Regions from separate parts of the Homo sapiens genome. Here region 2 is linked to region 1. Evidence: fine-mapped expression QTL. A gene starts in region 1. The other region holds a variant in brackets. All regions are shown on one strand. Distances are from middle to middle. Region 1 holds the start of ASCC3 (activating signal cointegrator 1 complex subunit 3). Region 2 overlaps ASCC3 (activating signal cointegrator 1 complex subunit 3).

Region 1 (5,394 bases):
GAAAAGGGCCTAGCACAGATTATGTCTGAAAGACAAAATTCTCATTCCACCCTAATCCATGAGCCTCTGGGAGGCAGACTGAAGGAATTTACGCCTGCCCTCTTGTGAGAGTGGAAAAAACTCAAACCGTTTTTCCTCTGCTCTCACACGACAACCATCAACACAGAAGATGTCTGTGACAAAATGTGTATGAGTTTCTCCCCATGCACCAAGCAAACAATCACTTCTGCAGCAGACATCAGATGAGTGTTCTCCAATTCATTTCTGACACTATCTAGAGATACTGTCATATCCCACAGATTGAAGGCCCAATCCCACAAGACTGCCCACCACTTCTGATGCCAATTACAAGCTCCAGGCTTTTTTATCTGTACTTCTGACTGACCAGCTATAAATTGGGGATTACATGACCCCCCTCCTTGGGTTCGGTTAATTTGCTAGAGTGGTTCACAGAACTCAGGGAAACACGTTTACCAATTTATTATAAAGGATATTACAAAGGATACAGATGAACAGATACATAGGATAGGGTAATTTATAAGGGAAGGGAATTTCCATGCAGAACTTCCAAGTACTTCCTGGGCACACCACCTCAAGGAATCTCCACATGTTCAGCTTTCAGAAGCTTTATGAACCCTGTCATTTTGAGTTTTTATGGAGGCTTCACTACATAGGCATAATTGATTAAACCCTTTGGCCACTGGTGATCAACTTAATCTTCAGCCCCTCTCTCACCTCCCTAAGCAGTTAGGGGGTGGGGATGAAAGTCCCAACCTTCTAATAATTCCTTGACCTTTCTGGTAACCAGCCCCCATCCTGAAGCTACTAGGAGCAGCCAGCTAGCTAAGACAAAATTCTTAGTCAATTCATTAGCATACAAAAAGGCAAAATGGGGCCCGTAATCCCAGCACTTTGGGAGGCCGATGCAGGAGGACTGCTTGAGCCTAGGGGTTCCAGAGATACACAGGAGATCAATCAGACCAAAGTGAAGACTGGAAAGAAACTGATTTCTACCTCAAAAGAAAAAGCTTTTTATTTATTTATTTTTTTTGAGGTAGAAACTGAGGTAGAACTGTGAACTTTATATTTAAACAAGCTTTGAAAAAGAAAAACTTACTCTTCTGAAATGGCAAACCACTGGTACATATACTACTTTTTGATCAAAGGCAATATCAAATCATGCTGTTAAAGCAAGATCATCTGTTCCCCTTTCAATGCCAATTACATATATACATTGACAATAACTTTTTCTTTTAAAAGCTTTGTTTTGGTTAACTACAGATCCATGGCATGAGAAAGAACCCTAGTCAAGATTCTGTCTTAAAAGGAGGCTGCTGGATTATAGAAAGTTCATGAGCACAGAGACTGTCTCTCTCTTGCTCTCCTAGGCCTAGCCCAGCGTTTGACACATAGGAAGACTTGAATGAATGAATGACAAAAAACTGTTAAGCAGGGATCAAGAAAGCTGAACCATGAAAAATTAATTTCTCATATAAATAGGATTATTTAGCCTAAGCTTAAGAGCATCTTTAAGGATCATTTTTCTCATGCAAGACTATTATAACCATCATTAAAAAAAAGAGACAACATAAACTGGAGCACAATCCATAGTAAAACCAAAAGCTTAATTCTCAACATTTGAGAACTTTGAGAATCAGAAAAAGGATTTCAATCTATGAAACATAAAATCTGGTGATGGAGAAAATGGCTGTCAATCTCACCTAACCTAGGGAAAGAAAGAAAATGTAACCATGAGTTTGAATGCACAAGTGACAACACATCAAACTTTTACCAGCCCCTAGAATTATGCTTCTTTTAAACCAAAGAATAGCAAATACCATTAGCACACTGCATTCCATGAGTAAGTTAATTTATAAGAAACCTATTTGAAATGACTGCCCAGTACTCACAAAACCTCCCTAGCACCCACATACACATTTATTTATTTCAAAATGACATTATAGGCTCCTTGATTGCGAAATTCACCCACAATCCATCACGGTCAGCTACCTATTTACTTTCCAGTGTGTTGGGGGAAAAATATGAGGAAGATTTCTTTCCCCAAATCTACGTGAAGAAAACGAAGTTATCAAGGCTTTGTAACAGAAAAAAAGAAAACAAATTACCCATGCATGGGACAGAAAAACCTCATCTGGTCACGTTGTGGCTTAACACTTGGACAATATGTAGCTTAGGTTAAGTTTTCTATCCCCAACCCCACCTACAAACTCTAGGAATGGGCGGTATTGTTGCGAGACCCCGGACTCGACCTCATGCCACTGAAAAGGATGACAGGTCGGGACTTGCCCCGGAGGCAGGAAGAGAATCTCTGGCGGGTCGCGTAGCCCGCCTCGCCGTCCCCGCCTCCAGCCAGCTCCCCTGGCCGCGGCGACCCTTCTCGTCCTCCCACCTCCACCTCCACCTCCTCACCTCTCGGCCTGGCTCACGCGTTTCCCATCACTCTGTCAGCTCCTGCCACCGCGCCTTCTTCCCTTTCGGTTTTACTTTAACTTCCCACGCCGGGTGAGGAGCTGAGCGCAGGGCCAAAGATGCGAGCGGGCAGCTGTATCGCCGCGCCCCGTCCGCCCTCCAAGCCGCGCTTGCCGGGGTCGCGCCCAGTCACAGGGAACCGCGTGTGAGGACCATCAGTCAGACAGACAGACGCAAAGACGCACAGACCCGGCGAGGAGGGACAGAGTGGAGCTGGCGCCGGCCTACACGTCACCGCCCCGCTGCAGCGCCAACGTCGGCACGTCGACTCGTCGACTCCGGGCCCTCTGCCCCGCCCGCGTGCGCGCGCCGCTCCGCCTCCCGCCTCCAGCCTCTAGTCCGCTGGGTTCGGAGGAGCAGAGGCGGAAGGTCCCGGCGGCGGCGAGGATGCGCCCCAGGGCGGGAGCGGGACGCTCCACTTTACCCTGGCTGCCCGCAACGGGCCAGGCCTGCCGTCTCTACCTCTCTACCTGTGAGTTTTTTCCCTGCATTTACTTCAGTCTGCCGCGTCTTCTCCCCGCCCTTCTCTGTAAGGTAAATATGTGGAGGAAATAATTCCTATTAAAGGTAAAGGAAAGGAGAGCAATTTGAATGAAGAAACAGGTAGTTGCTATCGTCGTTTTCAGCCAAAGCCCTCTGGCTGCTAGAGAGTATACATGGTTCTCTGGTGTCAAGGCCTGTTTTCCATAAGCTTTCTGGATTCTCAGCTTAGTTCCCTCAAAGTGATCTCTGCAAGTCGGCTCTTCGGTCAGAAGACCTCCTCCAAAAACAGAAAGCCCAAAGATTCCCTAACTCGATTGAAAAGATAGGAAGATACGAAGAAAAACTAACCTAAAGAATTGTGTGGTTTATCTGCAAAGAGTTCTAGACTAAAAGCCAACAATGCAAAGATAGTATGAGTTAATATGTTTGTTGTGGCTCTCTTCTGCCATTCCCGCTTCCTCAAGGTAATGTGCCCCGATGCCTGGTAGAACTGTTTTGTAGAGGCAGCCAATAGTGATCCAGTTATTGTCTTTACTGGTCAGACCACCTCTGAAGTGCTGTGTTCAGCATTTGAAGACTTTAATCAAGCTGGCATTATATCAGGGAAGAGCAAAATGATGACGAGAACTCAAAAACAGGGCAAGTGAAGAAGGATTGATTAAACCTTCCAGGACTCACCTAGAAGAGAGAAAACTACTGGACTCTCTCCAAATATGAAATGACCTATCATGTGAAGTTGATTTGTTTCATGTGATGCAAACTTCAGGGAACAGATTTAAGATCCTGAAAAGAAGATGCCCTTGTAGCACGACCCAAAGAATTGCCTACCTTAGCATGTGTGAATACCTCAACCACAGAATTTTGCTTCAAGGAGATTCTGAAGCTCACTTAATAGGGACTTGGTACAGGGGAGCCACACATCAACAGAATAATTAGTTGATGGTTTTGTTAAAGATATTTCCAGTCTTGAGATTACATGTGTCTTTGGTCCTGGACTTCATAGAGTTTACAAGTTAGTTCATGAGACAAGACAAATGCATCACAAAAATAAATAATGCAAGGAGGCCAAGTGATAATGAGAGGTGCTGATAAGTGCTAGGAATTCACATGACAGATTATTCCCATCACAGTTCCAGAGGCTTAAGGGAGAAGAGAGGAACTGAAAATAGACTACCTAGAACTGCCCTATCCATTGGGGTAGCCACCAGTTAAATACGTCTCTTGACATTTGAAATGTGGCTTGTCCAAACTGAGACATGCAATGAGTCCAAAATGTACACCAGATTTCAAAGACTTAGAAAACAAATGTAAAATATTGTAATTCTTATGTCGATTACATGTTGAAATAATATATAATGGATCAAATAAAATATGTTAAAATTAATTTCAACTTTATTTTTACTTTTTATGTGACTTCTAGAAAATTTTTAATTACATAGGTGGCTTGCATCATATTTGTATTACATAGTCCTGGCCTGGAAGGAAATTCAGTTAGCCCTCTGTATCCATGGCTTCTGTATATGTGTCAACCAACTTTGGAACAAAAACAATTGAAAAAAAAAAAAAAAAAGAATGGTAATGTCTGCATTGAACACGCACAGACTCTTTTTTTCTTGTCATTATTTCCTTAACAATATGGATGTAACAACTGTTTACATAGCATTTCCCATTGTATTAGGTATTATAAGTAACCTAGAGATGGTTTAAGGTATATGGGACAATGTGCATAGTTTGTATGCAAATACTATACCATTGTGTGTAAGGACTTGAGCATCCTGGGGTTTTGGTATGTGGGAGTGTCCTGGAACCAATCCCCTGTGGACACTGAGGGATGGTCTTACTTCATTGAACTCTAAGAGCTATCTTTGTCCTCTTTATAGTCCCCAGGGTTTCCCCATTTTTTTTTTCAAGAGATGGGGTCTTGCTGTATTGCGCAAGCAGAAGTGCACTGGGTATTCACAAGCATGATCATTGTGCACAACAGCCGTGAACTCCTGGGCTCAATGATTCTTCTGCTTCATCCTCTCAAGTAGCTAGGACTACAGGTACCTGCCATCAAGCCCAGCTTCCCCAAATGTTAGTGGAAAGACAACCTAATGAAAATGGCCCTGATGACAAAGAGAAAGACCGTCCAGAAAGTATGCCATGAGCAAAGACAAGAAACAAGACTATAACTGCATTCTAGATAATGAAAACCTATTTATCTGTAATGGAACATTGTTAATAGAAGGTAGTGACAAAGTTAAAATGTAAACAAACTAGTCTATAAGGAGACTCAATTTTAAATTTAAAGAATTGAGTATAATAGGCAGTCAGTGTTTGGCAGTCACAAAATGGGATTGGGAGATTACTTTGGCAATATTGGGTAGGGTGGGTTGAAATTAGTGCATGGCTGGGAAACCAATTAAAACTCATTGCAGT
Region 2 (5,394 bases), 240 kb before region 1:
TTTCTTCTTAAAAAATGTCTTTAAAAGTCAAAAAATTAATTTAAAAAATTATCCTTTCCCCACTGCTCTATTCAGTTAATTACATAGGTAACTGAGGGCTAACGACATACTTTCTACACCAGACTGTAGGTTTCTTAAATTTTCTGAAGCACTGAAAATTGAGGCCGGGAGCGGTGGCTCAAGCCTGTAATCCTAGCACTTTGGGAGGCCGAAGCGGATGGATCACCTGAGGTCAGGAGTTCGAGAACAGCCTGGCCAACATGGCAAAACCCCATCTCTACTAAAAATACAAAAATTAACTGGGCGTGGTGGTGGGCGCCTGTAATCCCAGCTACTCGGGAGGCTGAGGCAGGAGAATCGCTTGAACCCGGCGAGTGGTGGTTGCAGTGAGCCCAGATCATCCCACTTCACTTCAGCCTGGGTGAAAGAGTGAAACTCTGTCTCACAAATAAAATAAAATGAATAAAAAATAATAGAGAAGGAAGGAGGGGAGGCATTGCAAGTTAATGCTTGTAATGCTAATCAAAGCCGAGATATGTTCTTAAAAAGACTAAAAAATAAATAAATAAATAAACTGCATATTGCATATTTACTGATGATGTTAAATTACAGTGCTTTACATTAGTGAAAGATGAAGGTTTTTCTTGGCTCATTTGGGCTCAATGATAATGACTATATATTCAAAGAGACCCTGGAATCATTGAGGTTACTTTGTATATGTCTAATATCAACTGAGATGTTATGGTGGTACATTTATTGTTTTTAAAATTGTAGTCAGAACTCAGCTAATTATATAAATAGGGTGATACATTCTTGGTCATTTGGCAGACAAAAGATAAAATGAACATTGAAATAGAATGTTAACGCAAGTTAAGATCAAGTGCTATACTCAAAGATTAATGATGTTTGAAGCATGTATTTTAAATTAAAGCACCAAACATTTTTTATATATTTTATTCTGAGATTCTAAATATTACATGTAGCACACTTGATGAAAGAAGACTGGAAAGATTCCCTTCAATGAGTAGATCACTAGATACTACAATCTCATTATTTTTCTATGTTGACAAGCCTTTTAGTTCTGTTCTGCCAAGATATCAAAGTGGAATTAAGCCAAAGTATAAAGTATCTCTCTTTAAGATAAGCTAAGATAATGAATAGGGTACACATTTGACAAAAATGGCAAAGTTTAAAGTCACATTAAGACCTCTTTCAATTCCCAAAGGACTGCCAAATAATGAGTTCATTAAAAGTAGTGAGGACTATATTTTTATTCTGAAAATGACAAAGGGTTTCTCTTTGGAAGAACCATATGAGAAAAAATATGGACTTTCATTTTTCTATAAATTAAGGCCCTCTTAAAATCAATTCTGAAAAAGAAGAAATAAACTTATTATACTAGTTAATTAACAGATTAGTTTAGGATTTTTTGAAATAGAGTATTTCATAGGGCACTTAAAAGTATCATTGTAAACATTTATTCCTGAAAAATCTGCTTCTATATTAAGTCAAAATAAAAAGGTATTTGTTCACGTCACCAAAATTTAAAATGGATTTTTGCAAGGTATGACAGTGAAAAACACTATTGTATGATGTTGAAGATTACCACGTACCCCTTTATAATGTTAGGGCAGAGGGATAAAACTAATATAAAGTGTTCCTATTTCCCCACATCCTCTCCAGCACCTGTTGTTTCCTGACTTTTTAATGATCGCCATTCTAACTGGTGTGAGATGGTATCTCACTGTGGTTTTGATTGGCATTTCTCTGATGGCCAGTGATGATGCACATTTTTTCATGTGTCTGTTGGCTGCATAAATGTCTTCTTTTGAGAAGTGTCTGTTCATATCCTTTGCCCACTTGTTGATGGGGTTTTTTATTTTACACTGTTGGTGGGACTGTAAACTAGTTCAACCATTGTGGAAGTCAGTGTGGCGATTCCTCAGGGATCTAGAACTAGAAATACCATTTGACCCAGCCATCCCATTACTGGGTATATACACAAAGGATTATAAATCATGCTGCTATAAGGACACATGCACATGTATGTTTACTGCAGCACTATTCACAATAGCAAAGACTTGGAACCAACCCAAATGTCCAACGATGACAGACTGCATTAAGAAAATGTGGCACATATACACCATGGAATACTATGCAGCCATAGAAAGGATGAGTGCATGTCCTTTGTAGGAACATGGATGAAGCTGGAAACCATCATTCTCAGTAAACTATCGCAAGGACAAAAAACCAAACACCACGTGTTCTCACTCATAGGTGGGAATTCAACAATGAGAACACATGGACACAGGAAGGGAAACATCACACACCGCGGCCTGTTGCGGAGTGGGGGGAGGGGGGAGGGATAGCATTAGGTGATATACCTAATGTTAAATGACGAGTTAATAGGTGCAGCACGCCAACATGGCACATGTACACATATGTAACAAACCTGCACATTGTGCACATGTACCCTAAAAGTTAAAGTATTAAAAAAAAAAAAAACTAATATAAAGGGTAGATGTTATTTGCAGGACACAAACTCACTTGAGGTATGTGGAAATCCATTCCATAGTGATACCATAATATGATTCCTTAATATTAGCTTTTTTGTTTTTGGTGTAGAAACACAAAAGATGGGGGGAAATTCCCCATAACTCACTGGTATGTTAGTTAATTTAACATACTAGAAATAAGTTTAAGTAAACTGGAATAAACGCAAGGGAGAAAATAAAAGTTTTACAGAGAGAACAGATTAAATGATGAATGACAAATGAAATAAAAAGGGAGTTATAGAGAAGTTATAATGATTACAAGTAAAACTTTATTACGGTGTAGACATTTTTCAACATTAATTAAAACAACCATTTTGGAAAAATCAATGATTCAAATCAGCATTCACCATGTTACCTGTATGAGGAGGATGTCTCTCTGGTAGAATTAGATGTTGAAAGTTGATAATACATACTGCCTCAGCACCCAACCATCTATCAGACACTGCTCGGATGTAGTATTGGGAAGGCAAAGGCTCAAAAATAGGGATTGTAAATACCAGTAGTTGGGCTTCTTTACTAATGACCTAATATGAAATACAGTCAAAAATAAATATGGATATTCTAATAGCATAAAGGCCTTATTAGTCTATTGTTAAGATAACGGTATCTCTACAAGATATACTAAAGACAAAGTATCTTGAATTTGTAAATAGCTGAGATATTC[G/A]GAAACTTTAGAAAATTGTGCATGGTGCCCTTCTGAGGATACCTGATAGAAGGTAAAATTTTATGGCTAATTTATATTATTTACATATGCATATAATCATGTATTAACAAGTTACCAATTTGACTACCTGAATTTCCCAAACATCATTCATTCAATTACATAACTTCATGATTTTTACCTTACCGAATTACCATATTGTTTACTTAATATTTTTTGTTAAGTTCTATCAGTACCTAAAATGGAATACCGCAATCACTTGGTACAAATAGAAGGTAACCAAGCAGACAAAAGCAATGAATACAAAACGCTGCTATGAAATTCTACTGTTGCCTACCCAAGACTCTTACCTGAAGCTTGCTTTATCTTTGATAAAAACAGAAATTACGAATGAAGCATCAGTTAAAGAAATACCATCAAATTGAGTCTTTGTCTTGTGATTTATAAAGAAATTTAGAAGAAATGCTCTTTTAATCCAATAGTATTCAGTATTTTGTGCATGTGACCCTTAAGATTATTATTGATCCTACCTATTTTACATATTCTACACCTCTGGAACCCAGGTCTTAAACCATGGTAAAGATTATCCAGTCATGCATTGCTTAATGACAGGAATGGTTCTGAAAAATGTGTCATTACGTAATTTTGTCTTAAGAACATCATAGTGTACGTAGACAAGCCAGATGGTATAGCCTCCTAAATATCTAGGTTACATGGCAAAGCCTACTGCTCTTATACAGCATGTTACCATACAGCATGTTATTGTATTGAATATTTTAGGCAATTATAACACAATGGTACTTACCTATCTACACATATTTAAACCTAGAAAAAGTAGGTGAAAATACAGTATTATAATCTTATGGGACCACTATTGTACTGTTGTTGTGTATGTGGTCCCTTGTTCACTGAAATGTCACTATGTGGGGCATTACTGGTAAGTGAATTTCTTAAACCATGATCACATTGAATATACCAATACTATAACATTTAATCACTGTATTCTTTTAAAACTAATAGGAAACTAAAACATAAAATAAAGTTTTAATTGTACTATAAAATTACAGAGAAATAAAAGCAGAAACTGTTAGTATAATTTTTTTTACAATAGCAAATAAGGATATATTCACATATATACACTTACTTGTTTTTTTAGAGCTAGAAAATACTCTGAATGATAAATATGATCATTTGTAGGATCTTCTACCCAAATCCACCAAGGTTCTCCTACTGTCCCATGTACCTAGAAGAAAAATAGCATCCTGCTACTATGCATATCATAACTCAAATAAGGGATAGCATCCAATCTTCTCACTCTAGAAGCTTTATTGATATATCATTTATATTACAAAGTTTACTCATTTAAACATTTCAAGTATACAGTTAAATGATTTTAATATATTTCCAAAGTTGTACAACCATCACCATAATCTAATTTTAGAACATTTTCACCACCTCAAAAAGAAACCTTGTACCCATTAGTAGTCACTACCTTTTCCTTACAGATTTGCCTAATCTGTAAATTTCAATTAAATAAAATCATATAATATGCAGTCTTTTGTGACTGGAGTTTTTAATTTACCATGATGGTTTCACAGTTCATCTATGTTTTAGCATGCATCAATGCTTTCATTCCTTTTTATTGTCTAATAATATCCCATTGGATAGATATACTGTATTTTGCTTTATCCATTTCAATGTCTTTCTCTCTCTCTTACTCTCTCTGTCTCGCTCTTCCTTGCAGAACCCAGTCTTGTTCAGCAAGCATCTCTCCCTCATGTGACTCAAGAAAAAGTGACCACATCCCCTGGGATAATTTTGATTGGCATAAGTCAATCAGCTCATGGGATTCCCCTCCCAACTGCTGTGGTAAGGCAGAGGCACATGACAAATACTGGCCCAATTAGACTGAAGAAAAGGTCTATGGTCCATGTTCTGGGCTGGAGAAGTGGGGATGTGTTTCCCATGCTCTGTTTAATGCAAACAAAAAATCCTGAAAACATTTGAGAAGTACCCAAAAGTGTCAGCAGAGCAAATGGGTGAAAAGTTCCTGGTCTTTGAATGACATCTTTAAACAGAAGACTCAACCATCCTTAGGGCCTATTCTACCTGTGGACCTTTCATTATGAAAGATAATATACTTTCGTCCTTAACTCAGCTTGAGGCAAGTCAAGTTTT

The links.
Region 2: its variant is fine-mapped to the expression of ASCC3 in whole blood (TOPMed, PIP above 0.99).

What each region holds. Positions count from the first base shown.
Region 1 is chr6:100,878,631-100,884,024 of GRCh38, forward strand. ASCC3 (activating signal cointegrator 1 complex subunit 3) reads right to left here and starts at 2,699. Exons shown (of 42, transcript NM_006828.4): 1 at 2,431-2,699. LOC107984041 (a long non-coding RNA gene) reads left to right here and starts at 2,827. Exons shown (of 8, transcript XR_007059692.1): 1 at 2,827-3,024. RefSeq lists an enhancer at 2,543-2,662.
Region 2 is chr6:100,639,671-100,645,064 of GRCh38, forward strand. ASCC3 (activating signal cointegrator 1 complex subunit 3) reads right to left here. Exons shown (of 42, transcript NM_006828.4): 23 at 4,361-4,459; 24 at 2,911-3,079. Among named protein-coding and RNA genes, the nearest start is that of SIM1, 180 kb to the left of the region's middle. The variant G/A (reference allele first, on the strand shown) is at 3,220.